4 linked regions of the Homo sapiens genome follow. The protein of the gene in region 1 purifies or fractionates together with the protein of each later gene. This does not show direct contact. Each region holds a gene or a part of one and is shown in the gene's direction. Other genes may lie near its edges. The genes, in order: HACD1, MYO1B, TPM4 and ATP2B1.

What was found.
Region 2: the proteins of HACD1 (region 1) and MYO1B purify together in Homo sapiens (affinity purification with mass spectrometry; one large-scale study listed by BioGRID and IntAct). This does not show direct contact.
Region 3: the proteins of HACD1 (region 1) and TPM4 purify together in Homo sapiens (affinity purification with mass spectrometry; one large-scale study listed by BioGRID and IntAct). This does not show direct contact.
Region 4: the proteins of HACD1 (region 1) and ATP2B1 purify together in Homo sapiens (affinity purification with mass spectrometry; one large-scale study listed by BioGRID and IntAct). This does not show direct contact.

Annotation. Positions count from the first base shown.
Region 1 is NC_000010.11:17,590,323-17,597,703, reverse strand, and holds part of HACD1 (very-long-chain (3R)-3-hydroxyacyl-CoA dehydratase 1), read left to right. Parts: intron 1-3,320; coding exon 3,321-3,499; intron 3,500-7,257; coding exon 7,258-7,340; 3' UTR 7,341-7,381.
Region 2 is NC_000002.12:191,378,490-191,385,870, forward strand, and holds part of MYO1B (unconventional myosin-Ib), read left to right. Parts: intron 1-2,972; coding exon 2,973-3,077; intron 3,078-4,790; coding exon 4,791-4,853; intron 4,854-7,381. UniProt on the Homo sapiens protein: Motor protein that may participate in process critical to neuronal development and function such as cell migration, neurite outgrowth and vesicular transport.
Region 3 is NC_000019.10:16,081,442-16,088,822, forward strand, and holds part of TPM4 (tropomyosin alpha-4 chain), read left to right. Parts: intron 1-471; coding exon 472-605; intron 606-4,981; coding exon 4,982-5,099; intron 5,100-6,585; coding exon 6,586-6,656; intron 6,657-7,381. UniProt on the Homo sapiens protein: Binds to actin filaments in muscle and non-muscle cells. Plays a central role, in association with the troponin complex, in the calcium dependent regulation of vertebrate striated muscle contraction.
Region 4 is NC_000012.12:89,704,456-89,712,579, reverse strand, and holds the start of ATP2B1 (plasma membrane calcium-transporting ATPase 1), read left to right. Parts: upstream 1-3,741; 5' UTR 3,742-3,984; exon of another isoform or gene 3,985-4,186; intron 4,187-4,432; exon of another isoform or gene 4,433-4,812; intron 4,813-8,124. UniProt on the Homo sapiens protein: Catalyzes the hydrolysis of ATP coupled with the transport of calcium from the cytoplasm to the extracellular space thereby maintaining intracellular calcium homeostasis.

The DNA of each region.
Region 1 (7,381 bases):
TCGCATGACAATGTTCTGGACCTCTGGCACCTTTGAAAATACTAACTTACCATATAGTCTCTTTTCATGTGCTGAATTTACAAAATTTGTCTGAAGAGGATAGCAGAATGTACATTGCATATTTTCCTGAGGTTGGCACATTAGACTTGATGGCTTTGTGTGTCTGTCTTTTGGAATGCATTTGCATGTCTTGAGTGTCTGGAAAAGATAAAAACTCTGCCATCGTATGTTTAAATTTGCTGTTTAGAAAGTGTTTATCCATTGCAGGCTGGGCGTGGTGGCTCATGCCTGTAATCCCAACACTTTGGGAGGCCAAGGTGGGCGGATCACTTGAGGTCAGGAGTTCCAGATCAGCCTGGCCAACATGGTGAAACCCCATCTCTACTAAAAAATTAAAAAATTAGCCACATGTGCCTGTAATCCCAGCTACTTGGGAGGCCGAGGCAGGAGAATTGCTTGAACTAGGAGGTGGAGGTTGCAGTGATCTGAGATCACACCACTGCACTCCAGCTTGGTGACACAGCGTGACTCTGTCTCAAAAGAAGAAAGTGTTTATCCATTGCCTTAATGTTAAACAAGTTATACAGTCTTTCAGCTTTGAAATCATATGTTACATAATACTTTGTCAGTTGATCATAATCATAAATAATTATGTTTCATGTCAAAAAGATCTTAAAAATCCCAGCCATCTAAATATGTTTCCCAACTCCATTAAGTAAGGTAAAATAATATTTGTATTTATGTTCAGATGTTGAAGCTGTCATTCTCGAATAAAACTACACTTTAGAAATGGCTTCTTAGTTATAAGTAGTTTGGCCTATTGTTACAGTTTGAATATACTTTGATTCTATTTATGTGTCATAAGTGTTCTTGGAAAAGTCCTCAGAATAGGTAATTGTATATATTAAGTTAGGTTTTTCATATTGATTTAAAATGCACTCCCTTCAAAAAAATTTTAGATAGTAATTGGGAACCTTCAAAGAAGCATTGTATCTTTTTTTTTAATGTGGTCTATCCATAGTTAAATCTCCCATACTGCCCTCAGAACTTAGAGAAGTAGTAACATGCAATCTTTTTGAAGTGCAAGTAAAGTCAAATTATATAATTTGTTCCCATTTCATTAGAAATTTTCATTGCCCTTAAGACTTTCAACTAGCTTATTGTAGGAGTGTTAATTTTTTCTTCTATTGAAGAACAATCCTGCCAAAAAAAAAAAAAATCTTTTGAAAACCACATAAAGTAAAAATTGCAACTTAATCAGTTTGGGTATTTTACTGAGACAGGTATATAAAATGTCCAGTTATGGGATTTAATAAATTGAGGAATAGGGAAAGATTGATTTAAATGATACACAAATAACTACCCAAAACTGGTAAGAAAGCAGGGAGTTTCTCCAAGGCCAAGAAGGGATTAACAGGTACAGTGAAGGAATCATTCTTCTTTCTTGAATAGCTCATCTATTTTGGCAAATAATTCTGCCCTTCTCCCCATCTCTTATCTTCGCATATCCTTGACATACAGGAATAATGCAATTTTTAATTTGTCTCCAAGCTTCTTCAATACTGACAACTTTGACTTTTCTTTATAGATATTTCCTAATGCCAACAAAATGATTAAATAAAATACAGATTAATTTGATTTCTTTTTCCATCAAAATGTTGACCTTTTGTTTTAAATTAAAAACATTTTTCTTTTTTTAAATTAAATTTATTTTTTTTGAGACAGGGTCTCGCTGTGTCACCCAGGCTGGAGTACAGTGGTGCGGTCTTGGCTCACTGCCCCCTTGACCTCCTAGGCTCAAGCAATCCTCCTGCCTTAGCCTCCCAAGTAGCTGGGGCGACAGGCATGCACCACTGTGGTCTGCTCATTAAATTTTTTTTTGTGAGACGGGGTCTTACTATATCGCCCAGAGTGGTCTTGCACTCTGGCCTCTTAAGTTTTCTGTGGTAACTGTTATATAGTGACTGAGTCAGAGAAAAATGATTTTTTTTTTTAATGAAGAAATATGATCATCTTGGATCCTTTAGGCCCCTCTTATTGGAGACCAGCCAGTAGAACACAGAGTGTTTCCTAATTGGAAGCATACAGGATGCCTGGCCTACTGTGTGTTCCAGACCTTGCCACAGACCAAATGAACACATGATGACTTTGGATTTAGAGTAGAACTTTCTTAACTCTACTTTAAACAAGCTCACTCTTCTTTTAATGTGGGAATTCAGGAACTAACTTGTCAATTTATTTTGTTACGGTAGCAGTTTTAGACAATATAATATACTCATTAGTAGCTACTCATGCTTCAGGTGGTATTATCAGTTTTCTGCAATAATTGGTTTTCATTAGTAACCACAAAGACTTTTTCAAATGCCTCTTAAAAATAACTACCTTGGTAATTTCAAGGTTTAGATATAAAATTTAGGATAATCACTGGTCTTTTTAAACGCAGTGTTTGATCAATAAATTACTAGCTGCCGCGGACAAAAGCAGTCATTTGTGATTTTATGCACCAAAGAAGTTACCATTACAATACTTTTTTTAAAGCTACATAGGCCGGGCATGGTGGCTCATGTCTGTAATCCCAGCACTTTGGGAGGCTGAGGCGGGTGGATCACCTGAAGGCAGGAGTTCAAGACCAGCCTGACCAACATGGTGAAACCCTGTCTCTACTAAAAATACAAAAATTAACCGGGCGTGGTGGCGGGCGCCTGTAGTCCCAGCTACCCAGGAGGCTGAGGCAGGAGAATTGCTTGAACCCGGGAGGTGGAGGTTGCAGTGACCCAAGATTGTGCCACTGCACTCCAGTCTAGGCGACAGAGTAAGACTCCATCTCAAAAAAAAACAAAAAACAAAAAAAAAAAACACCAAAAATTAGCTGGGTATGGTGGCACACACCTGTAATCCCAGCTACTTGGGAGGCTGAGGCAGGAGAATTACTTGAACCCAGGAGGTGGAGGTTGCAGTGAGCCAAGACTGTGCCGCTGCACTCCAGCCTGGTGACAAGAGCGAACTCCATCTCAAAACAAAAACAAGAAAAACTACATATACATTTTTTAATACATAAAAGTATTTTGGTACTCTAAAATAAGTTGATACTATTTTATTAAAAAGACATTGCCTATTATGGAAACTGGTATTAGGAAAAAAAGGATGATAATCAATAAGCAAATGATTAAAGTAGAACTATTAACCTTACGTAAGGTTATTGTAAATATGTAAAGAAAAGAGAATTTTGAAGTTTAAATTTAGTAGTAGCAATAGACCTGCAATGTAAAGTCTAATAATTATTGTAGAAAAATAATTCTCTGAGGTTTTTCTTTCTCCAGATATAATTTTTTTATCATCTTATATCCTGTTGGAGTTGCTGGTGAACTTCTTACAATATACGCTGCCTTGCCGCATGTGAAGAAAACAGGAATGTTTTCAATAAGACTTCCTAACAAATACAATGTCTCTTTTGACTACTATTATTTTCTTCTTATAACCATGGCATCATATATACCTTGTAAGTATATACTTATTAGTACTTTGATTTGACATATGATGTGGAAATTTTTGAAAGGATATAATAATATGCAAGGGGAAATAATTAGAAATAATTGCTTACAAATACATTAAAACTTCGGTTTAACTCCATATTTACTGATAATTTGGGAAAAGTGAAGGGAGATAGAGGCAGAAGACAGTTCATTAGCTATGAGAATAAAGGCAGGTAAATTAACGCATGGATTATTGCTTTCTCAAAATCATTTAAACATCAGCTTAGTATGATTTTTTTAAAGAAAGATAAAAACAAATCATGTTTAAAGCATTAGTGCACTTTTTACAAGCATTTAGAATTATATGTCTGAGTATAAACACTGTGTCCAAGAAAATTTCAGATCATTTCTATCTATTCATTAAGCATATACTTGGAAAAATCATCTAGGAGTAGTTTTGAGTCTTATTTGTGTTGCTCTATGTACTTGCAAATAATAAAGCCTCTTTTCTTAAAGGATTTTGAATAAGTCAGCCTCTTCACTAATTTCTCATCATCTTTCAGCAGTTGAAGTGAATTGGTAAGGCTTTACTCCATTTCAGTGCTGCTAATAGTGAGGCAGGGCTCCGTGGCTCATGCCTATAATCCCAGCACTTTGGGAGGCCGAGGCAGGTGGATCACCTGAGGTCAGGAGTTCGAGACCAGGCTGGCCAACATGGCAAAACCCTGTCTCTACTAAAATACAGAAATTAACTGGGCATGGTGGCGCATGCCTGTAATCTCAGCTACTCAGGAGGCTGAGGCAGGAGAATCGTTTGAACCTGAGAGGCAGAAGTTGCAGTGAACTGACATGATGCCATTGCATTCCAGCCTGGGCAATAAGAGTGAGACTCTGTCTCAAAAAAAAAAAGGCGTGGGGGCTAATAGTGATATATTTTTAAGTCAAATATTGATAGCTCTAAAATCTACATCGACATGATACAAATTATTTCATCTAAAGGAGATGCGCATAAAACTTGGCCAGCCCCTTGAGGTCTCCAACTTTTTTTTGTTGTTTTTTTTGAGACAGAGTCTTGCGCTTTTGCCCAGGCTGGAGTGCAGTGGCGCCATCTCAGCTCACTCCAATCGCTGCCTCTCAGGTTCATGGGATTACAAGCGCCTGCCACAGTGCCCACCTAATTTTTGTATTTTTAGTAGAGACGAGGTTTCACCATATTGGCCAGGCTGGTCTCAAACTCCTGACCTCAAGGGATCCACCCACCTTGGTCTCCCAAAGTGCTGGGATTACAGGCATGAGCCCCTGCCCCCGGCAGATGTCTCCAACTTGTATCTTTCCCAAAGTCAAAATTGACTTAGTGGTGAAAGATATGTTTTCCCCTTGTCTTCTACCACTTCAGCCTGATTCTGTATCTGATTTTCTACCCCAGCCAGTTCGGGAGAGCTAAGGAGGGGATGCCTACTCTATTGGTTCACATCCCTCTCTTTTCCCAATGGCAGGTTAATGGTAGCATTACTTGAACAGAACCAGAGCTTGCTTCGGTGTCTGTCTGACAGTTACAGGTTCAAACAGTGGGTTCTCTTCCTCCTCATGGCTTTTGAGGCATCTCCATGGAAATGGAGAGCCTGAAGCACCTTTTTCAGTTGTCCTGGGAGATGTAGACTCTGGCCTGTACCAGTAGCAGCTTCCCAGTTCACCATGCTGCCAGCTACTGAGTCCCACTGGCCAGAGAATCACTCAGCCCAGAACATGTTTTCCACTGCATTTTTTTTTAATTCCCTCCTCCCCCTGCATTCTTAATGTTAGTAATAAATCAATTAATTTTACTTATTAAATCCTTTGCTAATTAAAAGTACTTTTTGAGTACTTAGTATTCAAAAGTAGTAGTATTATTTCTCATTTACATTAAGATGAAAGAGGTTAAGTGAGTTGCTTAAAAATCACTAGCTTGTGGCCTGGTGTGGTGGCTCACACCTGTAATCGCAGCACTTTGGGAGGCCAAGGTGGGAGGATTGCTTGAGGTCAGGAGTTCAAGACCAGCCTGACCACCATGGTGAAACCCCGTCTCTACTAAAAATACAAAAATTAGCCAGACATGGTAGTGGGCACCTGTAGTCCCAGCTACTCAGGAGGCTGATGCAGGAAAATCACTGAAACCGGGGAGGCAGAGGTTGCAGTGAGCCAAGATTACACCACTGCACTCCAGCCTGAGTGACAGAGTGAGACTCCATCTCAAAAAAAAAAAAAAAAAAAAAAATCAGTAGCTGGTGAGTTAAGGCAGGGTTTGAACTCAAGCCCATACCTTCTGTTCAGCTACTCGGAATTTTATGGAAGTATTTACAATAATTGGTCAGTGAGTTTAAGTAATTATGACCTGAGTAAATTTAGCCCCCTAGGTATATATAATGTGATGGTAACCTTTCTTAAGTTAGGAAGAACCTAAATAGAAAGACTTTTTATCCAAAGTTGCCTAAGCAGGATATTCAAAGCTTGTTTTGTGATAAGGTTCATTGGTTTGATTATTCTGATCATCATATTCAGAAATATTTTTACACTGGCATTGTTTATAGCTGATATTAATTTGTTTATCCACCAACATTTATACTATGAAACACTGGTTTGAAACACTGGTTCAAATTGGTTCAAAATATTCTTCAAATTTGACTGGACAGATGACAATTTGTCCAACTGACCTAATAACGTATGTATTTATGTGTTATTATATAATGGATTAAATACCCTTACACCCAGCCAGGAGGAGCTTCTGCTTTAGGCTCTGTTAAGAGGACCTTGCTGTAGCTCTTCTGTGGTCACTCCACACAGCACCCCACTGCCTTCTAGATCACATTCTAGAAACCTGAGACCATGGAATTTGCTACCCAGAGGGCAATGAGCATGCATCTGGGCCCTAACCAGGCTTCTTCGTTGATCCATGGTCCTGAGGGTTAACCATGTATCAGTATACGCACCCCTGAGAAAACAGGATAGCCAGGGGGCAGCTGTTTGTGAGGGGTATGGATGAAGCTTAGATGTATGCACCCGGGTATCCTCACACATGTGCAGGAGACCCCTTGCAGTACAGGATACAGCCAGTAGAATGGAGAAGAGGAGGCTGGGTGGGGCCAGTTTTCCCTGTGCTGGAATGTTCTGGCGCAGCATTCCAAAGAGTTCAGAATTCTAAACTCAAACATGGTCTTCCAGGTCATTATGAAGGTATTTTTATCAAGGTATTTAAGTTTGTTAAAAACAAGCAAAAATAGGCCGGGCGCAGTGGTTCATGCCTGTAATCCCAGCACTTTGGGAGGCCGAGGCAGGCGGATCACTTGAGGCCAGGAGTTCAAGACCAGGCTGACCAACCTGGTGAAATCCCATCTCTACTAAAAACAGAAAAATTAGTCAGGTGTGGTGGTGATGCATGCCTGTAATCTCAGCTACTCGGGAGACTGAGGCAGGAGAACTGCTTGAACCTGGGAGGCAGAGGTTGCAGTGAGCTGAGATCATGCTACTGCACTCTAGCTGGGGCAATAGAGTGAGACTCTGTCTCAGGAAAAAAAATAAATAAGCAAAAGTAAAAACAAAACCTCAACAGTTACAGCATTAGAATATTTAGGCATGTGGTATGTGGGCTTCCATTTGCACTCTTATAGTCTTGAGCTCTGTAAATATCCAGGGAACAGCAGTGGTATGGGATGTATTTACTCTCTAACATTGCCACATTTAACAGGTTTCAAGTATAAATAATTTTAAAGCAATAGCTTGTTTTTCTTTGTTTTCTTTTTCAATGAAGTGTTTCCACAACTCTATTTTCATATGTTACGTCAAAGAAGAAAGGTGCTTCATGGAGAGGTGATTGTAGAAAAGGATGATTAAATGATCTCTGCAAACAAGGTGCTTTTTCCAGAATAACCAAG
Region 2 (7,381 bases), on another chromosome or scaffold:
ACAAAGTACATTGATCAGTTAGGTTGGGGCAGAAATAAATCACAATGGTGGAATGTCATCAGTTAAGGCTATTTTCACTTTTTTTGTGGATCTTCAGTTGCTTCAGGCCATCTGGATATATACGTGCTGGTCACTGGGGATACGATGGCTTAGCTTGGGCTCAGAGGCTTGACATTCCTGTCTTCTTATATTGATAAGAAAAATAAAATAGTGGTAAAGCGTTGGGACGGCGAAAATTTTGGGGGGTGGTATGGAGAGAGAATGAGCAATGTTTTTCAGGGCTGCTTCAAGCGGGATTGGGGCAGTGTGGGAACCTACAGTGGGAGAGATTCAACTGAAGAAAGATTTTGGGATAAGGGGTGATATTGTGGGGTTGTTAGAAGGAGCATTTGTCATATAGAATTACTGGTGATAGCCTGGATGGCATGTTTTCTTTTTCCTGATAATTTATAATTAGAAGCATTGGATTTTGAAGCTTTAAAGCTTCAGGCAAGTTATATGATGTATCATTATTTCAGTCAAACTGTTTTTATCCTGAAGAACCCTCCCCTAGCAAACCACAGTTCAGACACCACAGGAAGGTATTGTGGTCCTGTCTTTTGAATTGACTGGATATGGGTCTTGATCCAAAGTTTTACACTGATCAAAAATACAGCCTGAATGGTAAAAGCCATCATTTGTAACCATGAATAACTATCAATACATGCTCACTTTTAGAAGTTTATTGCTAATTAAGAACTGACTGCATTTTGTGTAATTTGTCCCTTTTTGCACCAGAATGCAGTAAGTATGACCTGTTTGCAGTGCTGGTCTGTTGCATGCTCTTGTGTTAATAGCTTCTCTAGCTGTGTGAGTTTTGCAGTAAGTGGTTGTTGAATAACCATGTGGATATAAAATACAGAATCCATACAGGAATTTTTAAAGGTTATGGGCAAATTTAATTTAGTTGTAACTTAATCCTTAAATTGTTTTGTAATTGTGAAGCTTTGCCTCTGGTTTCTAATCTGCTTGTGTGTATTTCATGGTCCTGTTTTAGAAGTGTACTTTGAGCTGTTCATAGCTACACAATGTGTCTGAGGACACTAGTGCTTTCCTTTCCTTCTCATTATTTGCTGTTTGATGATTTAGCATAATAGGGTTGAAATAGCTCCATGGGCACAGACTTGCCAGATAACACATTTGTTCCATGAGACTGTTGTCTAAAAAAAAAGTCAAAGATCTGCTCTTATAAGTTATTAATGTTTTACTTTTACTTATAGGTTTTATTTATAGTTGCATCATATAGGGACATACTTTAGCAAAGCAATTGAGACTTTCTGATATATGGAATGCCTTTATGCTGAGTATAATAATAATAAGGCATCTATACTAGACCAACTTCAGTTTCTAATTGAAATTGTTAGCTCTGCGAATTTGAGCACAGGGTTTTAAAAAATTTGTGTGAAAATGAGGACTGAGGAGTGCCCTTTGTATCTGACTATATTTGTCAAAATTATTGAAAATAAATGTTTGCCTTTTAGTAAGACTCTTCAAGACATAAAACAAACAAACTTTTATCCTTAACTAAGTTTAGCATTAACAAGATAAGTCACTGACAATATATTCACATGTGTTATTTATGAGTTTGAGTTTAAAATTTCCTCTGATCACTGCATCACTGGTGATTAGAAATTCCTAGCTGACTTCCAGGAAAGAATGTAGTTAGATGCTGCAGCATAAGTATCATTTTTAAGTTTTCCTAAGTAAGACCAAAGTTGATTTTTAAAGATCAACTTTCAGAAGACTCTGTGACTTTTTCACTTCTATCATGTATGGAGGGATTTGAAGGCCAGTGGCTCTGCCTGTTCACAAGGAGCAGTGAGCTTTGGCTGCACCATTACATGTGGGCTCTCCTTCCTCATTAGACCAGGACTGGCCACCATTGTGGGAGAAGAGTCCAGTTTACCAGTGGTGGAGTCATACTATCCCTCGCTCCCACTGCCACCATCTTTGGGCGATAAAGAAAAATAGAGGTGAAAACAAGTTTTAGTGTCAGATCTACTTCTTCCTGGACGATGTGGTTCTTGATAAATTTATTCATTTGGTGCTCTCAGGATGTACAGCAATACATTAAGCCCTGCAGATTGTTCAGAAATGATTTAGGCATAAAGCTTCTGTCAACAAATTCATAAGAGATTAATATGAAGGAGAGGCTGCTGAGACTTCTAAGAGTGATCAAGGGTATGGGCCTTCTACAGAGAGAGAGATTGTTTCTTGTCAGGGAGATGCTTTAATCTTTGGGTCTCCATTTGGTAGGAACTTCATTTGTTCATACAGTCAGCCAATACATATTGAGAACTTGCTAGGTGTGAGGTGCTGTGTAAGGGGTAGGAATACAGTGAACAAGAGAGCATGGTCAGCCCTCACCCATAAGAATGTACAGTCTAGTGAGGCAGATGTATATGAAACTAATCTGTACATGTGTATACTTACACATACACACATGTTCGTATAACATGATTTACAAAAAGGGTTAGGATGCAAGAGTCAGAGTGAGGGATCTGTCCCTGGATGGGGACAATAAGGGGTCAGTTCAGGGGGACTTCCTTGAGCTCTGAAGTTTCACCTGAGAATGGGAGATTCAGAACTTGGTGACAGAGATTGTGGAGCTCACTGTGTCTTTGCTGATCCTTCAGCAAAGGAAGTGAGATTGTTTCTAGCTTTTCTGTTTGGGGTGCTTCTCTGTCAACTAAAAGTCTTCATCCTTCAAATATTGCATCATTTGTGTATACTTCATTCATTCACTTACTCATGACCCACTCCTCGAGTGCCTGCAATGGGCAAGCGTCTGTCCTAGGAGCCGTGTGCTGGGCCACAGTTAAATCTGAGAGATCATGTGTGGCATTTCTCATGGATTGAGATGTCTGAGTGTCATTGTTTTGAGAGAGCTAGTGGCATGGTTTATAAAGCTGTTTTTCATTTTCTCCATACAGGACAACAGCTTTGAGCAGTTCATTATTAATTATTGTAACGAAAAGCTGCAACAAATCTTCATTGAACTTACTCTTAAAGAAGAGCAGGAGGAGTATATACGGGAGGTAATGTTGAAATGCTATTTTTAAAAGTGTTGGTCCTTTTTTACTCGTAATATAAATTCTAATTCAGAAGATAGCCTAAACAAGAAGCCATATTCAAAAGGCTACATACTGTATGATTCCATCTGTCATTCTAGAAGAGGCAAAGCTATAGAGACTGATTACCTATAAGAAGCTATAGAGTCAGGGATTGCCAGGAGATAGGAGTTGTGAGAGGGTTGTGGCTGCAAAGAGAATTTTGGGGACTGATAATGGTGGTGGTTGCTTGACATTATACATTTGCCAAAACTTAGAGAACTGTATACCAAAAAAGTCAGCATCACTGTAAGTAGATTTGAAAATATTTTGAGACTTTGTTCAATATCAAAAAGTATTGAGTATTCAAATTTATAGTAAAAATAGGTAACAGTTACTGAGTCCTTACTACATAGCAGGTATTATATTAAGTGCTATGTATAGATTATCTCATTTAATATAATCTTAAAATAACCAGAAGTAGTGTTTGCAGAGTCTTTTCATCATTAATTTAAAAATATATATTTGCTTTTCACCCTTTTATTTTTTAAAATAGCCAGTCTTTTTTCAAGTGTAAAATTAGTTATTTCAAAAAATAAAAAGGAATTGTTATGTTTATATTTTTATTTCCTTTTTTGTTTATTTGCCTTAATATTTTAGTAATGATATTACCTGTTTTCCTTTATTTTCTTAGTATCATTTTAAGCCATTAAGGACACTGAATTCTCTTTTATCTTTCTTTCCATATAGATTTTTCTAATGTGATTGTTATCCCCAGTGGCTTAGTAAAACAACCCATTTACTCAAAAGCTAAATCATAAATATTTCATCTTTATTTTAGAGTACTCATTATGCTTCAGAAATGTTTTATACTTGTCTGGCACCTTTTAGTAACATAAATATTCTAAAAGCACGATTCATTCTTTTCCTGTCTTCTCATCATGAAGAGAATGCCCAAACTTTGATGGGTAACTTAAAACAGTTTATACAGATTGTTTAAAACACTTCTAAGAATATATAGGAAGATTGCTAGCTTGCTGTAATGAATAGAAGACAAATAAATGTTTACATTTATGGACAGAATGTTAAGTAGACACAGAAAGATTACATTTGGCTTTATGGATTTGGCTTTGTAGCCAGTGTTAGAACCAGTGGATAGATTTTCATGTCTTTCCTTATGTTGAAAATACTTTGTGGTAGCGCTGGCCTGTTTTTTTTAACACTTGAAAGAGTTAACTTCCCTACAACACAAGATTGACTCTAAAATTAATTTTTTTCCTTATGATTACAGATTCAGAACAGAAGAATCTAGGCTTTAAATTCTTGGGATCAAGTTCTAACTTATTTCCTTATAAACATTGTAAACATACACAACGTAATATTGACCCAAGGGCCTGTTGAGTAAATATTTGGCCCAGGGCCAGTGAAGTGCATGGGAAATTGCTGCAGATGGGAGAGTGGAATGGAAGGCAGTCTCAGAACAGGTCAAGGGTGTTTGCTTCAATCAGATTATGTCAGTGGTAGGCAGCTGCATTGAGAAAGTTTTGGGAACTGCCTGTGACATTTGCAGTACCCATTCTATAAAGAAAATAAATTCAGAGAGGAAGGGAAATATGATAAGATGGTCAAAGTCTGTTTTATGGATGGTAGTGTCGTGGCTTCATCTTGTGTCATTGGATTTTGTTCTGTTTTGTCTTTTAGGATATAGAATGGACTCACATTGACTACTTCAATAATGCTATCATTTGTGACCTAATAGAAAATGTGAGTACTTAGGTACAGTTTTCTAAAGAATGTTTTAGTCCTATAATTCACCCTTATAAATGTTCTCAGTGCCTCAATGTTAAGCATTAGTATTTTCACTGTTTTTTATATATATATATATATATATATATACACACACACATATATATGTGTATATATATATATATACACGTACACACACACACACACACACACACACACACACATATATATATATGTTAAGGAACTGCAGAGTTCTAGAGATTTTATTGTAGCCCTAAGAGATCATACACAGTTCTTGAACACATACATAGACAGCTGGATGTTTTGATACTTAGCCAGGATCCCCAGTGGCCATATCACAACACCCTTTTATGACCTTCAGACACCAGGCCTTAAAGGTACCAGCCTTTCTTGTATGGTTGGAGCCCAGGTCTATTCCATGACTCCTGGGCATGTGAGTACTGATCAGAGTAGGCTCTGAGCAGCCATCCAGTTTTTTGCCAAATCAAAATATCCATTTCATTCCCAAAACTCTAATGACCTCTTAACATACTATTCACCGGGTATTATATTAAGTTTAAGTGACATAAAGGGACAACCTCTGGAGCTGAATTAAGTGGGACCCCAGAAGTGGCTTAAGTGCAGCTGTAGCATTGATTCAGATCATACATGCAGAGGGCATTGCATGTGTGACTGCAGGTGGCCAGGGACCTGGAATTTTTCGGATGACCCAAGTATGTGCATATGCAAAAAGGCTTAAAGTGTGAAAAATTATTGGATAATTTCGAGTAAGCTTTCTGAGTCCAAGATTTTTGTTTTTAGATCATATTCCGTAGTTTATTGTAAATGAATTAAATGTAGGAAGACTGATTTTGTGTGTGGAAAACAGGAAACTAATTTATGCTTAGGATTACTAATACCTGACTTTGAATAAGTAATTTGAAACAGTGTATAAGCCTTATTATCCTGCAGTCTTTTTAGCAAGACCAGTTTAGTGAGATGAGTGCTGTGTTTCAGGAATACAGTCACATGCTCTGAATGAATATTAAATCATTTTCTACTCATCTTTTACAAAGCTTTTTGGGAAATATGTAATTAGCCAGTATTTTTTTTCCTCAGTATTCAAGATATTCCTAAAAGTTGTTTCTCTGATTAAATTAAACAATATTCTAAGGCATCACTATTTTTCAATAAGAAATAAACTGTGTTTCAAAAAATCTGAACAATATTGAATGGGAACACTAATATTCCACATAAGCAATTCAGATCTCTGATTTTGGCTCTGAAAAGTGAATTTCCTGAAAATTTTCCTGGTACATTTTGTGAAGGAGGTAATTTGCTATGGGAATCTTAATTTTCAGAATTTCTGATTAGTATGTTTTCTTTGATAAATATAACCTTGCATTTAATTATTCTCTTTTAAGAAGAGGAGAAAAAGAACAGTGGTAATACACTTAATTTAACTAGATTATCTCAGCCAAAAATCCCCTTGCTATATGATTGAAGAAGCTCATGTTCACATAGGAACCTGGGTATATAAAGGAAATGTTTCCTTCCAGCATCATTAAACAATAATGTTTGTTCTGGGGATGTTATGAACACACTTGATTCCTGAGAGTCCACGCTTCCCCAGGGTTTTGTGTGGAATGAATAAATGCTGGTCAGAGGATGTCGTGGCCTTGTTAGCAGAAGGGGAGAGGAACAGAGGACTTTGCCTGGGTGGAAGTAGGTGGGGTTGATGGTCAGTGGAGTGGATTGTTTTTGGAATTAAGACTTATGACCCCATAGGGGCAGTCCATGGAGTAGCAGTCTTTATTTAGCAAAGTAGAAGCTTCCTGACTTCTGATTCAGTTTAGGGCTGACTACTCTTGGAATAAAAATGACCACAGGGTCTAGATATGCAACAAATAAATTTTCACTTATGTTTAACATCCATTTAGAAATTCCACATGAATTTCTAAAATCTAAATCTATATGAAACAGATATTCTTGAAATCAGTTTGATTGCAGTGATTGTTAAAAGCAGCATCTCAAATCACAGCATTTTTTTCTAGGAAATAAACTTTATTTTGAACACATGAACAATTTGGAAACATAGAAAACGAGTTTCCTTCTTAGGAGTGAATCAAATAATGGCCTTAGAAGACTGCTTTGTGATTTGAGACATGTTATAGAGGCTGTATTGTCACATTCATTTCTGCTTTTAGATTTCTTTTTGAATCTTTGAGGTCCAACTTGTCTTTTTGTAAGAGTATAAATTTCAGTCATCATCAGGCTAAGGTGTCTGAGGCAACTCCCAGGTACTGTTGTTCTGTGCGAGGAGAGAGGAACCAAGAAGACACACTCTTCCCAACCACACCACCATACACACACCTGGGATCCTTCAGGAAAGAGCTGATTCCTGTGGCTTTTGTTATTGTTTTGAGTCTCTGCTTTTTGTTATAACTGAACAGACTTTTCTTGTGACTAAGTTGATTGTGTTTGATGGTGTAATTAGGAATAATTATTAAAACAATATAGTGAGGAAGGAAGGAAACTTTTTTATT
Region 3 (7,381 bases), on another chromosome or scaffold:
CTGGAGTGCAGTGGCACGATCTCAGCTCACGGCAACCTCCGCCTCCCGGGTTCAAGTGATTCTTCTGCCTCAGCCTCCTGAGCATGTGGAACTACAGGCACGTGCCACCACACTCAGCTAATTTTTCTATTTTTAGTAGAGACAGGGTTTCACCACGTTGGCCAGGATGGTCTCGATCTCTTGACCTTGTGATACACCCACCTCAGCCTCCCAAAGTGCTGGGATTACAGGCATGAGCCACCACGCTTGGCGATGCTCATCTTTTGCTATGGAGTGGTAGATGTTTTTCCCAGACATTTTCCGGGAAGATCATACTGAAATTTTGGTATGAGTGTAAATTCCCTATGGCCTGGACTCCTGGGTGGGCTTTGACGGGGAAGATCAGGTTAACAGAGGGCAGGACATGGGGGAGGCTCCCACTGGTGGCTGGCCTGATACTTCTTAACATGGCTGCACCTCCGACCTCCCCAGGCTGAAGGTGATGTGGCCGCCCTCAACCGACGCATCCAGCTCGTTGAGGAGGAGTTGGACAGGGCTCAGGAACGACTGGCCACGGCCCTGCAGAAGCTGGAGGAGGCAGAAAAAGCTGCAGATGAGAGTGAGAGGTAAGGACGCTTTGAATCTGGTGGCATCCGTGTTTGCTTTTAGAAAATGGGGATCATGCTGCCGACCTCGCAGAGCTGGTGTGAAAGTAAACAAGGTCACAAGGACATGCATGTGTCCACAAAAAAGTGCATGACAGCACTTTGTAAACCATCACTCCATGGGTAGAGATGTTTATCCGTGGCCAGGCACGGTGGCTCATGCCTGTAATCCCAGCACTTTGGGAGGCCAAGGCGGACGGATCACCTGAGGTTGGGAGTTTGAGACCAGCCTGGCCAACATGGTGAAACCCCGTCTTTCCTAAAAGTACAAAAAAATTAGCCTGCCATGGTGGCGGGCACCTGTAATCCCAGCTACTCAGGAGGCTGAGGCAAGAGAATCTCTTGAACCCAGGAGGCAGAGGCTGCAGTGAGCCGAGATCGTGCCATTGCACTCCAGCCTGGGCAACAAGAGCAAAACTCCATCTCAAAATAAAGTGAGGGGTGTTTATCCTTACGGTAACCATGAAAAGAAACTTCCGACAGACAGAAAGGCAAACAGAACGGGCAGATGTGAGACTGCAAGTATGACTGTCCATGGTGGTCAGTTTGCAAAGCACTGCTTCTCGTATTTTCTCTGAAAGCCACAGTGCCTCTTAGTGTTCTCTAGACACCAAATTTCAGGTAGGCCGGATGCAGTGATTCCTGCCTGTGCTCCCAGCACTTTGGGAGGCAGAGGCGGGCAAATCGCCTGAGCTCAGGAGTTCAAGACCAACTGGGGCAATGTGGTGAGACCCTGTCTCTACAAAAAATACAAAAATTAGCCGGGTGTGGTGGTGCACGCCTGTACTCCTGGCTACTCAAGAGGCTGAGGTGGGAGGATCACTTGACCCCAAGAGTTTGAAGCTGCAGTGAGGCAAGATTGTGCCACTGCACTCCAGCCTCAGTGACAGATGAGATTCTGTCTCAAAAAAAAAAAAAAAAAAAAAAAAGCAGAGTACTGTGGAGAGGAGGAAAGGAAACTTGGGATGCACAGGTGATTGTTAGCAGAGCTGTCAGGCTTTAGGCTTTTGGACGGTGACAGCTATTTCAGGGACAGTTGCAAACCAGCATGGTTAATGTACTTGCAACTGACCATGCACCAGGTGCCGTGGCTCACGCCTATAATCCCAGCACTTTGCGATGACGAGGCGGGTGGATCAACTGAGGTCAGGTGTTTGAGACCAGACTGGCCAACATGGTGAAACCCCGTCTCTATTAAAAATACACAAATTAGCTGGGCGTGGTGGCGGGCACCTGTAATCCCACCTACTCAGGAGGCTAAGGCAAGATCCCCCAGCTTGAACCCAGGAGGCAGAGGGTGCAGTGAGCCAAGATCGCACCACTGCACTCCAGCCTGGGCAACAGAGTGAGACTCTGTCTCAAAAAGAAACTGACCACGTTCCTCACCCGCCCATGGTATCTGTGCTGCAACCCAGCCACCAGTAGGGTGCCTTCTCCTCGGTAGCCAGATCATTCTCTGGCACGCCTTGGCACAGGCTCTCTGGAAGACTGAGGGTAGATTGTGTAATTCACAGAAGCAGCAGTCTGTGTGTGGTGGAAAAGGAGTTCCTTGTGTGGCAATGGTGTGGGCCCGACCAGTGATCATCGCGTCTGCCCCTCATTCACACCGGAGTTCTCACTTGAGCCAGCCACCATGCTTTTGCAGTATAAACACCTCCCAAAGATTCATTTCTTTTTTTTTTTTTTTTTTTGAGACAGGGTCTTACTCTATCACCCAGGCTGGAATGTAGTGGTGCGATCACAGCTCACTGCAGCCTCGACCTCCTGGGCTCAAGCGATCCTCCCGCCACGGCCTCCAGAGTTCCAGAGTAAAGCTGGGACTACAGGCGCATGCCATCATGCCCAGCTAATTTTTTTTTGAGACAGAGTCTCGCTCTGTCGCCCAGGCTGGAGTGCACTGGCGTGATCTCAGCTCACTACAAGCTTCACCTCCTGGGTTCACGACATTCTCCTGCCTCAGCCTCCCAAGTAGCTGGGACTACAGGCACCCGCCACCACACCCGGCTAATTTTTTTGTATTTTTAGTAGAGACAGGGTTTCACCGTGTTAGCCACGATGTTCTCAAGCTCCTGACCTTGTAATCCACCTGCCTTGGCCTCCCAAAGTGCTGGCACGCCTAGCTAATTTAAGATGCATTTCTGGTTGTGCTGCTGTGACCACTAACCAGAGATTAGAAACCAGCTAAGGAATCTTGGAGATTGCATGTCACCCAAGCTGGAAATTTCTTCCCAAGTAGTGGAACAGCCAGGGCAGAGGGAACAGACGCTACTGCAGACTCTGCTTCAGCCACTGAATCAAGGGAGAGAGTGGCAGCTCCGGCAGCCACGGGGCAGTGGAAGGACCCAGTCACGAGAGTTCCTGGCTGTGCCTGTGGCCTGGGTTAGCTGCTGTTCACAGTCAGACCAGCCTGGCTGGATGCTGACGTTGAGGGCTCCCATATTGGCAAACCAAGGGAGGCTGCGAAGGCCAGTCTCTTGTTTGCACCATGTCCCCAGAGGCCTTTGGTGACACCCCTGTTAAAGACTGCTGTGTCTCAGTAGAAAGAATTATATACTTGAAGCTTGGGGATCTAGAGTCAGCTTCTACCACTGGCACTTTCTATGGAGCCTTAGGCAAGTCACTTTGATCTCTTGGGTACTACAAGGGGTTTTGGGGCAATAAATAACCCAGAGAGCTTGCTCACATGCTGAGGGTGAGACCTCGTACAGGTGGGGGAGGGTGTTTTGAGACTTAGCTGAGAACGGGTGACACCCCACGTGAACATATTTATTGGACAGCAAGAAGCATATGGTCTCTGTGCTGGGTGGGAATGATACATATCAATGACACATTATCCCAGGCTGGCCTCTTCTTTTCTTTTCTTTTCTTGTTTTAAATACACAAGGTCTTGGCAGGGTGCGGTGGCTCACACCTGTAATCCCAGCCCTTTGGGAGGCGGGCGGATCGCTTGAGCCCAGGAGTTTGAGACCAGCCTGCGCAACATAGTGAGACCCCATCTCTACAAAAAAATATTAAAAATTAGCCAGGCATGGTAGTGCATGCTGGTAGTCCCAGCCACTCAAGGGACTGAGGTGGGAGAATCACCTGATCCCAGGAAGGCAAGGTTGCAGTGAGCTATGATTACACCACTACACTCCAGCCTGGGCAACAGAGTGAGAACCTGTCTCAAGAAAAAAAATAAATAAATACACAACGTCTTGCTCTGTCACCCAGGCTGGAGAGCAGTGGTGCAATCACGACTCACCGCAGCCTTGAACTCCTGGGCTCAAGCGATCCTCCTACCTCAGCAACATTGCAAAACCCCCACCTCCACAAAAAATTTTTTTTTAGTTTAGCTGGGTGCAGTGGTGCACACCTATAGTCCCAGCTACTCAGGAGGCCGAGGCAACAGGATTGCTTGAGCCTGAGAGGACAAGGCTGCCGTGAGCTCTCAGGGCACCACTGCACTCCAACCTGGGCAACAGAGTGAGACACCATCTCTCAAAATAAAAGAAAAAGAAAGGGGGCACAGACTCTGGAGTCAGACTGCCAAGGGCTGAGCCTCAGCTCTACCACTTACCAGCTCTGTAACCTTAAGTTACTTACCCTCTCTCTATGCCTTAGTTTCTTCATTTGTAAAATGTGGATAATTTACCTGCTCCATAGGGCAGTTGTGAAAGTGAAGGCACTTAGAAAAGTGCCTGGTAGTAAAGATGAAGGGAGGCTGGGCGCGGTGGCTCACACCTGTAATCCCAGCACTCTGGGAGGTCAAGGCGGGCAGATCACTTGAGGTCAGGAGTTCCAGACCAGCCTGGCCAACATGGCGAAACCCCCTCTCTACTAAAAATATAAAAGTTAGCCGGTCACGGTGGTGCATGCCTATAGTCCCGGCTATGCTGGAGGCTGAGACAGGAGAATTGCTTGAACCCAGGAGATGGAGGCTGCAGTGAGCTGAGATCACACTACTGCACTCCAGCCTGGGTGACAGAGCGAGACTCCATCTCAAAAAAAAAAAAAAAAACCAAGATGAAGGAAATGTGTGCACAGAGTTCCATCTTTGCAGTGTGTTACAGTGCTCAGTAGATTCAGAGACTCATTTAGATGAGAGATGGGACTAGGGGTGGTGTCTCACGCAATTAGCCAGACATGGTGACGGGTGCCTGTAATTCCAGCTACTCAGGAGGCTGAGGCAGGAGAATCGCTTGAACCCGGGAGGTGGAGGTTGCAGTGAGCTGAGATCGTGCCACTGCACTCCAGCCTGGATGACAGAGCGAGACTCCATCTGAAAGAAAAGATAGATGAGAGGTGGGTGGAGGGGTGTGAGTGAACGGCCGTCCTGATGAGATTGCTCCTTGCAGAGGAATGAAGGTGATAGAAAACCGGGCCATGAAGGATGAGGAGAAGATGGAGATTCAGGAGATGCAGCTCAAAGAGGCCAAGCACATTGCGGAAGAGGCTGACCGCAAATACGAGGAGGTGAGTGGGGCTGGCAGATGGCGCAGCAGCAGGAAGTGGGAGGAAATGCATCTGCTGAGATAGGGAGGACACCGGGGCCAACGAAAGGAAGCTCTCGGTTAGGTCAGCTGTCCTCCTGCGTGAACATATGTTTGTCCAGAGACAACCACTTGGCTAGGAAACTATCTCCCACGATGCCAGAAAGTGCTGCGGACGCTTGTCTAACGTAATGGGAAAACCGAATGATCAGCTCACTTGTGTCGTTAGCTGGGAGTTTTGGCACAGTTGGGCAAAAATGGAGGATTGTGGTCCCAAGCCATGGAGTTTCAGACCATGCAAGCTCAGGCCCTCCTTTGCCTCCCTCGATGGCTCGGCTCTTCCCTCCCGCCTCTTGTCTGCCTCGCTCCTCAGGCTTGAGGAAGAGAATCAGGATTTCCTCCAGGCCCCAGGATGGCTCTTTCAGTTGAAGCGCCAGCAAAAGGCCAGGCGCGGTGGCTCGTACCTGTAACCCCAGCACTTCGACCGAGGCGGGAGGATCACCTGAGGCCAGGAGTTTGAGACCAGCCTGGGCAACATAGTGAGACCCCATTTCTAAAAATAATAATAATAATAATTAGCTGGGTGTGGTGGCATGCACCTGTAGTCCCAGCTACTTGGGAGGCTGAGGCAGGAGGATCGCTTGAACCTGGGAAGTCAAGGCTGCAGTGAGCTCTGACCACGCCACTGCACTCCAGCCTTGGAGACAGAGCAAGACCCTCTGTCAAAAACATAAAAGGGCTGGGCATGGTGGCTCACGCCGGTAATCCCAGCACTTTGGGAGGCCAAGGCAGGCAGATCACCTGAGGTCAGGAGTTCATGACCAGCCTGGCCAACGTGGTGAAACCCTGTCTCTACAAAAAATACAAAAATTAGCCGGGCATGGTCGTGCATGCCTGTAAGCCCAGCTATTTGGAAGGCTGAGACAGGAGATTCACTTGAACCCAGGAGGCAGAGGTTGCAGTGAGTCAAGGTTGAGCCACTGCATTTCAGCCTGGGTGATGGAGCGAGACTCTGTCTCAAAAGAATAAAAAAATAAAAAAGAGGCCAGGTGTGGTGGCTCATGCCTATAATCCCAGCACTCTGGGAGGCCGAGGTAGGTGGATCAGGAGGTCAGGAATTCGAGACCAGCCTGGCCACTACGGTGAAACCCCATCTCGACTGAAAATACAAAAATTAGCTGGGCGTGGTGGCACGCGCCTGTAGTCCCAGCTACTTGGAAGGCTGAGGCAGGAGAATCGCTTGAACCCAGGAGGTGGAGGTTGCAGTGAGCCGAGACTGTGCCACTGCACTCCAGCCTGGGCAACAGAGGGAGACTCCGTCCCCCTGCAAAAAAAAGAAACACCAGAAAAACCCATGTTGCAGCTGGTCTAGGGGTCTGGGTGGGGCATCATTGGGGGCTGTCTGCAGTGGATGGGAGAGGACACGGCTGGTGGGGATCGGGCTCAGCTGGGCCTTTCTGTCTCTGCAGGTAGCTCGTAAGCTGGTCATCCTGGAGGGTGAGCTGGAGAGGGCAGAGGAGCGTGCGGAGGTGTCTGAACTGTGAGTGGCAGAACAGGACTGAGCGAGGCTGGCTCGATTCCTGGGGCGGAGTGGGAAGGAGCTGGCTGTGTTGGGAATTGGCTCTGACCGGGGTCTCTGCTCAAGTGGACGGGCGTCAGGGGCTCATGGCTCATCTTTTCTCTTGGCTTCTGTGACAAAGAGGTGGTGACTTGTTCTTACTGCCATGGGAAGCACTGCCCACGTGTTGACCCTTTCTGCAAAGATATGAGGAAATAGGAGTGAGACAGGAGGCAGCAGGGAAGCCCAGAAGTCCCATTTTCCCAGAGAGGATATCTCAGGGGGCTGTGCCATCTTAACAGAACACTGACCTGCTCCAGAAGGCAGGCTCCCCCGGTCAGTATGTAAATGCTTTTGCTCCTGTCAGTGTTTGGCCGTGACACATTCCTGGCGGGAAGGTGAGAAGCTTAACCAGAATCCCACAAGCAAGCACCGAAAAACAAAACACCTGTCCTCTTGGCCCCGGGTGAGGAATTCAGCCCCACAGAGCATCCGGGAGTGCTGAGAGAGATCTGGTTTCACAAATCCACTCCGGGCTTCCTTCCCGGAGTGTCCCCTGCAAACTCCCATTGCTCTCTGCCCGCCTTCTGCCCTCAGTCCCATTCTTACACCTTCCGGAGTCGGCCTCATCAATCATAGATTTCACAAGTCCTTGCAGCCTTACCCTTGGCAAAAGACCAGGAGTGTTTTCCAAGCCCTCCAAATAC
Region 4 (8,124 bases), on another chromosome or scaffold:
CTATTGCTAGATGCATGTGACAGAATAAAGTTCTTTGTTTCTCTTTACACTTAATTACATTGAGGATTTTAGAAAACTGTCTTCATGTGTTATATCTCTTGAATCGATCAACTTTTCAGCAAATATCTCAGTTGTTTAGATTTACTCTATGAAAAAGAGCATACCTTAAAAATACCAAATATATTATTTTGAATCTGCAGCCACTCTTCAATGTTAACATCTCATATGGTAACTTGTCATGGGGTTTAAATACTTTTTTGTTTTGTTTTGTTTCGTTTTGTTTTTGAGACTGAGACTCACTCTGTCGCCAGGCTGGAGTGCAGTGGTGCGATCTCGGCTCCCTGCAACCTTGGACTCCCTGGTTCAAGCGATTCTCCTGCCTCAGCCTCCTGAGTAGCTGGGATTACAGGCATGAGCCACCACGCCCAGCTAATTTTTGTATTTTTAGTAGAGACGGGGTTTCACCATGTTGGCCAGGATGGTCTCAATCTCCGGACCTCGTGATCTGCCCGCCTCAGTCTCCCGAAGTGCTGGGATTACAGACGTGAGCCACCGCACCTGACTGGATTTAAATACTTTTATAAGTTTTGCATTGTAGCTAAAATGCATATTAAAAGAACTTTAAAATATTATTTCCCCAGTAAATTGTATTATTATATTGTTCCTTATGCAAAGATACATCTCTAGATCAGTTAAACACATGGGATAAGTTAGGTCTAAGATTAAGAGAATACTGTTACATACAGTGGCATCTTTGATTTCAGATAGTTCAATTTTTTTTCAAGGAAACAGTAAGCAATGCAATATTTTCTTGATTTTTACATTGAAAAATATGTGTGAGGGATGCTTTAGTACTAAGCCTGTGGGAGAAAAAAATTGAATTTCTTAATGTAATGTGAACAGTTATTTCTATATTGCTTTCACCCTTTATTTCCTATTTGAAGAATAAAAATATAAAAACCAAACTACAGTACAATTTTCTTGACTATGACAGTAAAAGTTTGTCATTGCATATGACTCACATTTCATTAAAATGCATACAAATATGTTCCGGGATACACACACACACACGTTTTCATTTATGGATATACATGAATATATATATTCCGTATGTTTCATTTATAGATTTATCGATATAAATGAAAACTTAATTGAATCGTGTTCTTAAATAAAGATGCTCAATAATTGTTTCATGACCACAACACTTTAAGAGCATTCATTTTATAATCTGGAACTGGAACAAACCCACAAAGTGAACAGATTCTAGTTTATTACCCATTTTGCTAGTGTACTATAGCAATGATTCACATATTACTTTAATGTCAAATTCTTGATTAAAGTAGAATACATAATTCAACATTGTATTGTAACTTCCTTGGAGGAAAAGTTGGAAAAAAGCCAGTGATTCTTAAATGTCTCTGAGTCGTTTTGAAAGATATTTTAGGGGGAAATAATATTGAAATTTATTAGGTGAAATTTAGGTTATTCTTCTGTTAAAAAGATTTGAAATAGTGTCAGGAAGGGCTATTTATTGTACCACATTAACCAATTCTCCATCAGTGACTGAAGAGAGGAAAAATGCTATCATTCTGTTCAATGTTCGTTTATCTTACACATCAAGGGCACAGCTCAGAAGGCTGGTAATGTCAAGCCTAGTGAGATACATAAACTGATAAAAAAATTATTTGCAACAGCATTGATTTATATTTATTCACTTTTAAACGTCTTTTACACATTTTGTGTCTAATCTTTTAAAATATTTTAAAACAAATGCTATCATCAGATCGTGAACATAATACCATACTTCCTATTGCCTGTATGCTTTTGAGGAGGCTATATAAATATTAATTTTCCAGTTCTGGAATTAAGAGAAAGAAGATTGCAGAACTTATCTTTTTGTTCTGATTAACTGATACTGAAAATAACACTGACAAGGTCTCTGGGCCAGTGGCGACGGTGAGTTCAAATAAAGATTAGATGAAGATGAAGCGCGGTATCTTAGGTAAGATACACATCTTTACTGTGTATATGCGTGTACAAGAAGGAAAACTTGCTTTTTTTTTTTTAAGTAGATGTTACGAAGGATGGTTTTTTTTTTTTTTTCAACTTGCAAAATCTCTTGAAGGTTGGAGCAGAGCCGCCGGTTACCTTTGAGCATCGAAATACCGCAAGTTATCCCGTTTCCTTTTCCCCTCAGGAAAGATGGGTGCAGGGTTGAGATGTTACAAGAGAATTAAAAGAGAGCCACCAGCTTGGCATAGTAGAAGAAACAAACCCAAAATGAAAACACCCGGATTTTAAGCGCGGATCCTGCGAGGCCGGTTTGCACTGGCCGAACGCCTGCGTTAACCCTTTGGGCGCCGCAGCTGGGATCCCCGGTGTTTGCGGACCCGACCGGCAGGAACAGAGATGGAGTGTCCCGCGCCCGCATGGGGAGTGAGCTCTCTTCCCCAAAGAGGGAGCGAGCCGAGAAGCACTTTTTCCTCCGGTGCGTGCGTCACGGCCCGGGACAGGCGTCGAGTCCGGTTTGGAGTGGGGGCAGAGACGCGGCGAGGAGCCGCTCAAATGTCCGCTGACTGGGGGTTCGCCTTAATCTGTCCTCGCCAGGAGCGCTCGCCCTCGCCCTCCCGCTGGCTCGCTCCTGGGCCCTGGAGGGGCATGGGCCCGGGGGCGGTTCGGGAGGGGCCCCAGGTGAAGGGCGCCCGCACTTCTCCTGCGGCAATCATCGCTCTCCTGCCTCCACACGTCGCGGCAGCGGCCCGGCCCCGCGCCGAAACAGCAGCTGTGACTGACGGAGTCACCTCCCCGCGCGCCTGGCCACCCCCTCCTCCCCCGCCGCTCCCTCCTGCACCAACACGTCATGGAAACACGGACGTCAGAGCCTCTCAGCCAATCGCAGGCTGCGGCAGGAGGGAAGGGGCGCGCTGGAGGGGGCGGGGGCAGCGGCAAGCCAAGGCGCTCAGGGGAAGGAAGAAAGGGAGGGGCGTGCGGAGGCGCAAGTCCCCACCTCCGCCCCTCACTCCGGCCACCCTTTCCCGACCGCGCGGCAAGTTCTAATCGCCAGGCGCGCGCTCGCCAGCCGAGGGCGCGCTCGCCGGGTCCTCCCCTTAAACGCCCTCCCAGTGCCGCTCAGCTCCCAGTCCCGGTCCGAGCCGCGGTTCCTCCGCGCGCGCGCGCGCGCACTCGCCCGCCCCCAGGCTCCCCGCGGATCGCGTCACGTGACCGCGCTCAGCCAAGGCGGCAGCGGCGGCGGCGCGAGCTTCGGCGGCGGTGGCGGCTGTGGCAGCGGGAGCAGCTGCGCCGCCAGCGTGGAGCGGGAGGCGTGTGGGTGTGGAGAAAAGGGAGCGCCAGACCGGAACGGGTGAGCGTTCTCCTCCCCCTGCCTACCCCGGCAATCTTGCAGGCCACCCGGTGCAGACGGGGTCCCTGCCCGGAGCTGCGCGCAGCCCCCTCGTGCTCGGCCGTCCGCTCTCCGGTGCCCGCGGGCCCCGCCCCGAGTGGGGCGGGCTGCGGCGCTCACGGAGGTGGCTGCACCCCGCCCGCGGCTGCTGTTGCGGACGGCGGCGTGAGGCCGGCTGAGCTGCCCGTGCCGAGCGAGCGCGGCGCGCCCTGTGTGCCGCTCTGCGGAGCCGAGGAGGCGGGTCCTGCGGGGACGCGGGCGGCCACTCGGTGGCTGCCGGGCTCTGGGCGGGGACGGCCGGGCGCCGCCTCCTCCTCCTTCGCTGCCGCCGCCGCCTCCTCGCAGTGCAGCGTGAGTAGGGAGCCCCGGCTGGTGGACGCCGAGCCTCTCGGCTCCTTGGCCGCCCCATCCCCGAGGTGCAGCTGCACCTCCGCGTGGCGCCCCGAGCCCTGCGAGCCGGCTGCGGACGCGCTGAGGACGGAGCCCCCATCCTCTGCGTTTCCCGCTGCCCCTTAACGCCCCGCGACCCTCCCGCAGCCTGCCTTTCCTTCCCCCTCGGAAAATGGTTCCCACTGCCGGGCGAGGTGAGTGGCGGCCGCCGCCCGCCCGCGGCCGGGGGCGGCGGGGCAGGTCACCTGCGGGGGAGGCCAGGCGGAGCACGGAGGTCGGGCGTCGCGGCGGGGATCCTGATAGCTGGGTGCGCAGCGGGTTGCGCCGGATTCGGGAGAAGCTGACGGGGGCGGTCGGGGCCCCTCGCAGGTTGCCTCTTGCCGGGAGATTGTGAAGGTGAGCGGGCTTCTCGCCGTGCACCTCAGCGCCGGGTCAGTCTGGGAGTCGCTGCTCCGGGCCCGAGGGATGGGGCTTGTTGGGGCTTCTGGTCTACACCCGCAGGTCTTCGGCTTCACGAAGCCGCCTCGGCCGCGCCACAGCCCATCCCGCCACCGGTCGCCCCCGCCACGGCGCGTGGTGACCTTGAGGGCACCGTGCCCGGCACTCCCTCTCCCCGCGCCCCGGGAGGGTCACCCCTCTAATCCTTGGCCTCGGCCCCCCAGACGCACTGCGGGAGGGGAGCGGGGGCCCCTGGTCGGCCCCTGGCCCTGGTGGTTGATTGTTGGCGTGTCAGGACGGTGATTCCTCGGGAGTTGGAGAGCCGCCTGGTCTTTCTCCTCACGCCTTCCGTCTGGCCCCCCAGGATGTTCACAGTTGTTTCCGATTCGTGTTTATTCACTTAGTTTAAGAGAAAAAAGCCTGCGCCCCCACCTCCCTTTTTGAGGAAGGAGTCTGTAGGAGGACCGCGTTCCAGTGGCAGGGGTGTGGGGTGGGGGCTGTGCTCTCTTTATCCCATCCTGCGGGAGAATCCTGTGGCTAAGCTGGTTAGCGACCCCTGGTTCTGCGCCGCGGTCACCAGCCAGGTTGGTCTCTGTGCGCATTTCATTCACCAGTTTTCTGCGGGACTCGCAGCGCTGGGAGTGCTCGCACCCTGTGCGCTGCTTGGCTCGGAGGGGAGGGCAGGGCGTCCGGGTGGGTTAAAGGGGTCTGCAGGTACTTGGAGGGCTCGACCCTCCTCGACAGGCTGATATTTACCTTTTCTTTGGGTTAGAGCGCTGCAGACAGCCACCTTTCGCTTCTGTGCCCGCTACTTTTCTTGGTTTATTAATAATCTAATGGCTTCTGTTGGTATCGATTGCTGTTCGTGATAAATTAGCTACATAGATTTTTTTCATACGTGTGTAGGTATATGCATATATCTGAACTTGTCTGCCTGTCAACATGGAAGCCTTTGTTGTGTTTAACCTCCCCCACCTGAGGACAGTCTTATTTTAAAATAAGGCTTTTGTTCAGCGTGGGTGTATTTTATAATAAGAAGTACTTGTAAGGGCCTGGTTTGTATGAGGCTCTCATCTGGCAGAGGGTGTGTAACCCTTTGGATGGTGGCCCACGTGAGTGAATGGAGGGCCTTCACCACTTGCCCCGATGCCAGCCTTCCCGAGACTCCCTGTCCTTGTGTGTGGCAGGGGTGGATTGGGGGAATTAAGAGGGATTGGAGGAGAATCTGCTTTTTGTACTTGTGCGTTTCATTTGGGTCCTCCTCCTCCCCTCTCTTTTTCTTTATCCTCCTGGTGAGTTCAAATTTGAAGTAAATAGAAACATTTTTTTTTTAATTGGGAACCTTTGATAGCTAGTATATGAAATGGGCTTATTTAGCTATGATTTCAGGAGGACGTTTTAGTTTTTACCTTGCTTTAGATAAGACAGCTAAATTGCTGTAATTAAGGGTGGATCTCTGTCCTGATTTTGGCTTGGGTGTAACTGCAAAGATCTTTGAAAAGTAACTGTTAATTTCCTACCATATAGTCTGCAAAAGTGAGTCACATTCGGGTGAGTTGAGGACAGAGCGCCACCTTTAATTTAAAATTTCGTGATTTTCTTTTATTAAAATGGTGAAAATTCGGGGTACGCCTTCTTGATTTTTATCGCAGCTGTCATTATTGGCATCCCCATTTTGACGTGTAAGGGGGAATTGTCTTCATTTTTCTGTATTCTCTCATTTCTCTTTTGAGAGAAATTTCTGCAATTGTATGGGAAATCTTTTTTTTATTGAAGCTTGGGATTTTAGCATTCTGAGATGAGATGAGAAACTAGTTTTGATTTGTGTTTATAATAATATTGATGGTCTGGATATTCTTGGTAAAAGAAGGAAAGTAATAGCTGCTTTTAATAGGTGGTTTGAACTAGCCATTGCCACCAAATAAAGGTACCTACCAGTATGACAGTGGCTTTACAATTTTTTTTTTTTTTTTAGCTGTAGGCCTATTAACAGATTCTAAAATAAACACGCAGGATCAGATATAGTAATTCTTTTTTGTTGTCTTCCAACAACTTACCTTTTGTGATTTTACTGTTTTACAGTTGCTTGTTCTTAAATAATATAGATGAACACTTCGAGCAGGTGTACTTATATTCAAAGTTTAATAAAGACCATGTTAGAAAAAGTGGTTTGTATACATGGCTCCTCTCAGGTGCATCTCATGTAAAAATAAATGGAGATTTTAATACTTAGAAAAGAGTTACTGTAGTGACAGTTGAGATTTCTTTCCCTTCCCTTCCTTCCCAAATCATAAGTATAAGGAACACTGTCTCTTTAGGCACAGCCTCCTTTTTTGATGTAACATGAGAAAAGGGATTTAGCTCCCAAGTAATGAATTAAGATGTGGATATTATTACATATAGTCTTACTTACAAACCGCAAAATATTACTGCCCTTCTATCTGCATTTAAGGTTTCATTCAACACTTGCAATTTCTCTATAGACAATGTAAAGCATTGGCTATTGAGCTGTAGATAAGTCTTTATTAAACTAAAATTAGCCAAAAACTCTGAGATGAAAGGTGTTTTATCCCCTTACTGCTATGTGTTCTCTGTCGAACTATGGAATATGGCCCCGGGATAAAGGACATTATTTGAGCTATTAGATTGTTGCATGTAGAGTAATTATATGTTGTTATATATACTTTCATAGATTCCTTGATTTCAGAGTAAGATTTACTAATTTCCTTTGACTGACAGACATGTTAACTTCATTTCAGATGCAACAGTCTCTTACCATGGGAAATGAGTTTTAAAAGGAACGGCCACTTATAACTATTGGTCTTCTGTAATATTGAACAAAATAATATTTGGTTTTTTTCCCTTACATTTTACACATGAATACAGTAAAATTGATGTTTTCACTTTTTTATTCTGGAATTTTGTAATGGATGAGCAAAAAACAATAAAAGGACTGAGGATCAGAAAGCAGAAACAAACATTTAGGTTTTTGCATCTCGGGCAAGAGTATTGACCAGATGGAAGGGAATAATTATTTTCTAGTAGCTGTCATGATATGTAATAAAGGTACTAATAGTAGCTTATTTGGGACTAGGTGGAATCTGAGGTGACATTGCCAGGAAAATAACATACAATGGTTATGGGAATAATTTTCATAAAGATAAATAACTTTAAAAAATTCACTTTTTAGCTTTTAGAAATGTTATCTATACATACCACATATATTGTTGTCTTGTTAAAATTTTTTATTATAGAAATTATCAAACATAGGAAAGTAGAGAGAATGATATACTTACTGGCCAGTTTTGACAATTACCAACTCTCGTGGTCCATCACATTTCATTTATATCTTAACACAAGAAATGGTTCTGTTATAAATGGGGACATAGGACAGGTAATCGAATCGAATTTTTGTATTTGTATTTTTCAGAATACGGTATACTCAATAGTGTCCAATATCTAATTAAATCTGAATGGTCAGTTTTTATGTTCTTCGTTGATTCTTTAGTGGCATATACATTTTAATTTTTCTGGTGGTAGTTTGTGTATTTTACAGCAGGTGCCCAAAGATAGTGTCTCTCAAATTTTGCTGTCTTCAGAAATCACAGGTATTATTATTAACTACTTTACAGTTTTCAGAATGTATTTACATATGACCTCATTTGATTCTCACAATAATCCTGTGTGGTGAGTAAGGCAGACAATTGTACTTTTTTTTGTTTTTTGTTTTTTGTTTTTTTTCTGGTAGGCAAAGTGATTTGTCTAGGCCCTAAGGTCATATAGCTAGCAGCTTTTTTAGCCCAAACTGGACTTTAGGTGGCTTCTAGATTTTGCTCATTGCTCTTCTCATTATACACGTTTATGTAAGTTTATGAAAGTTATGTATGGAAAATCAG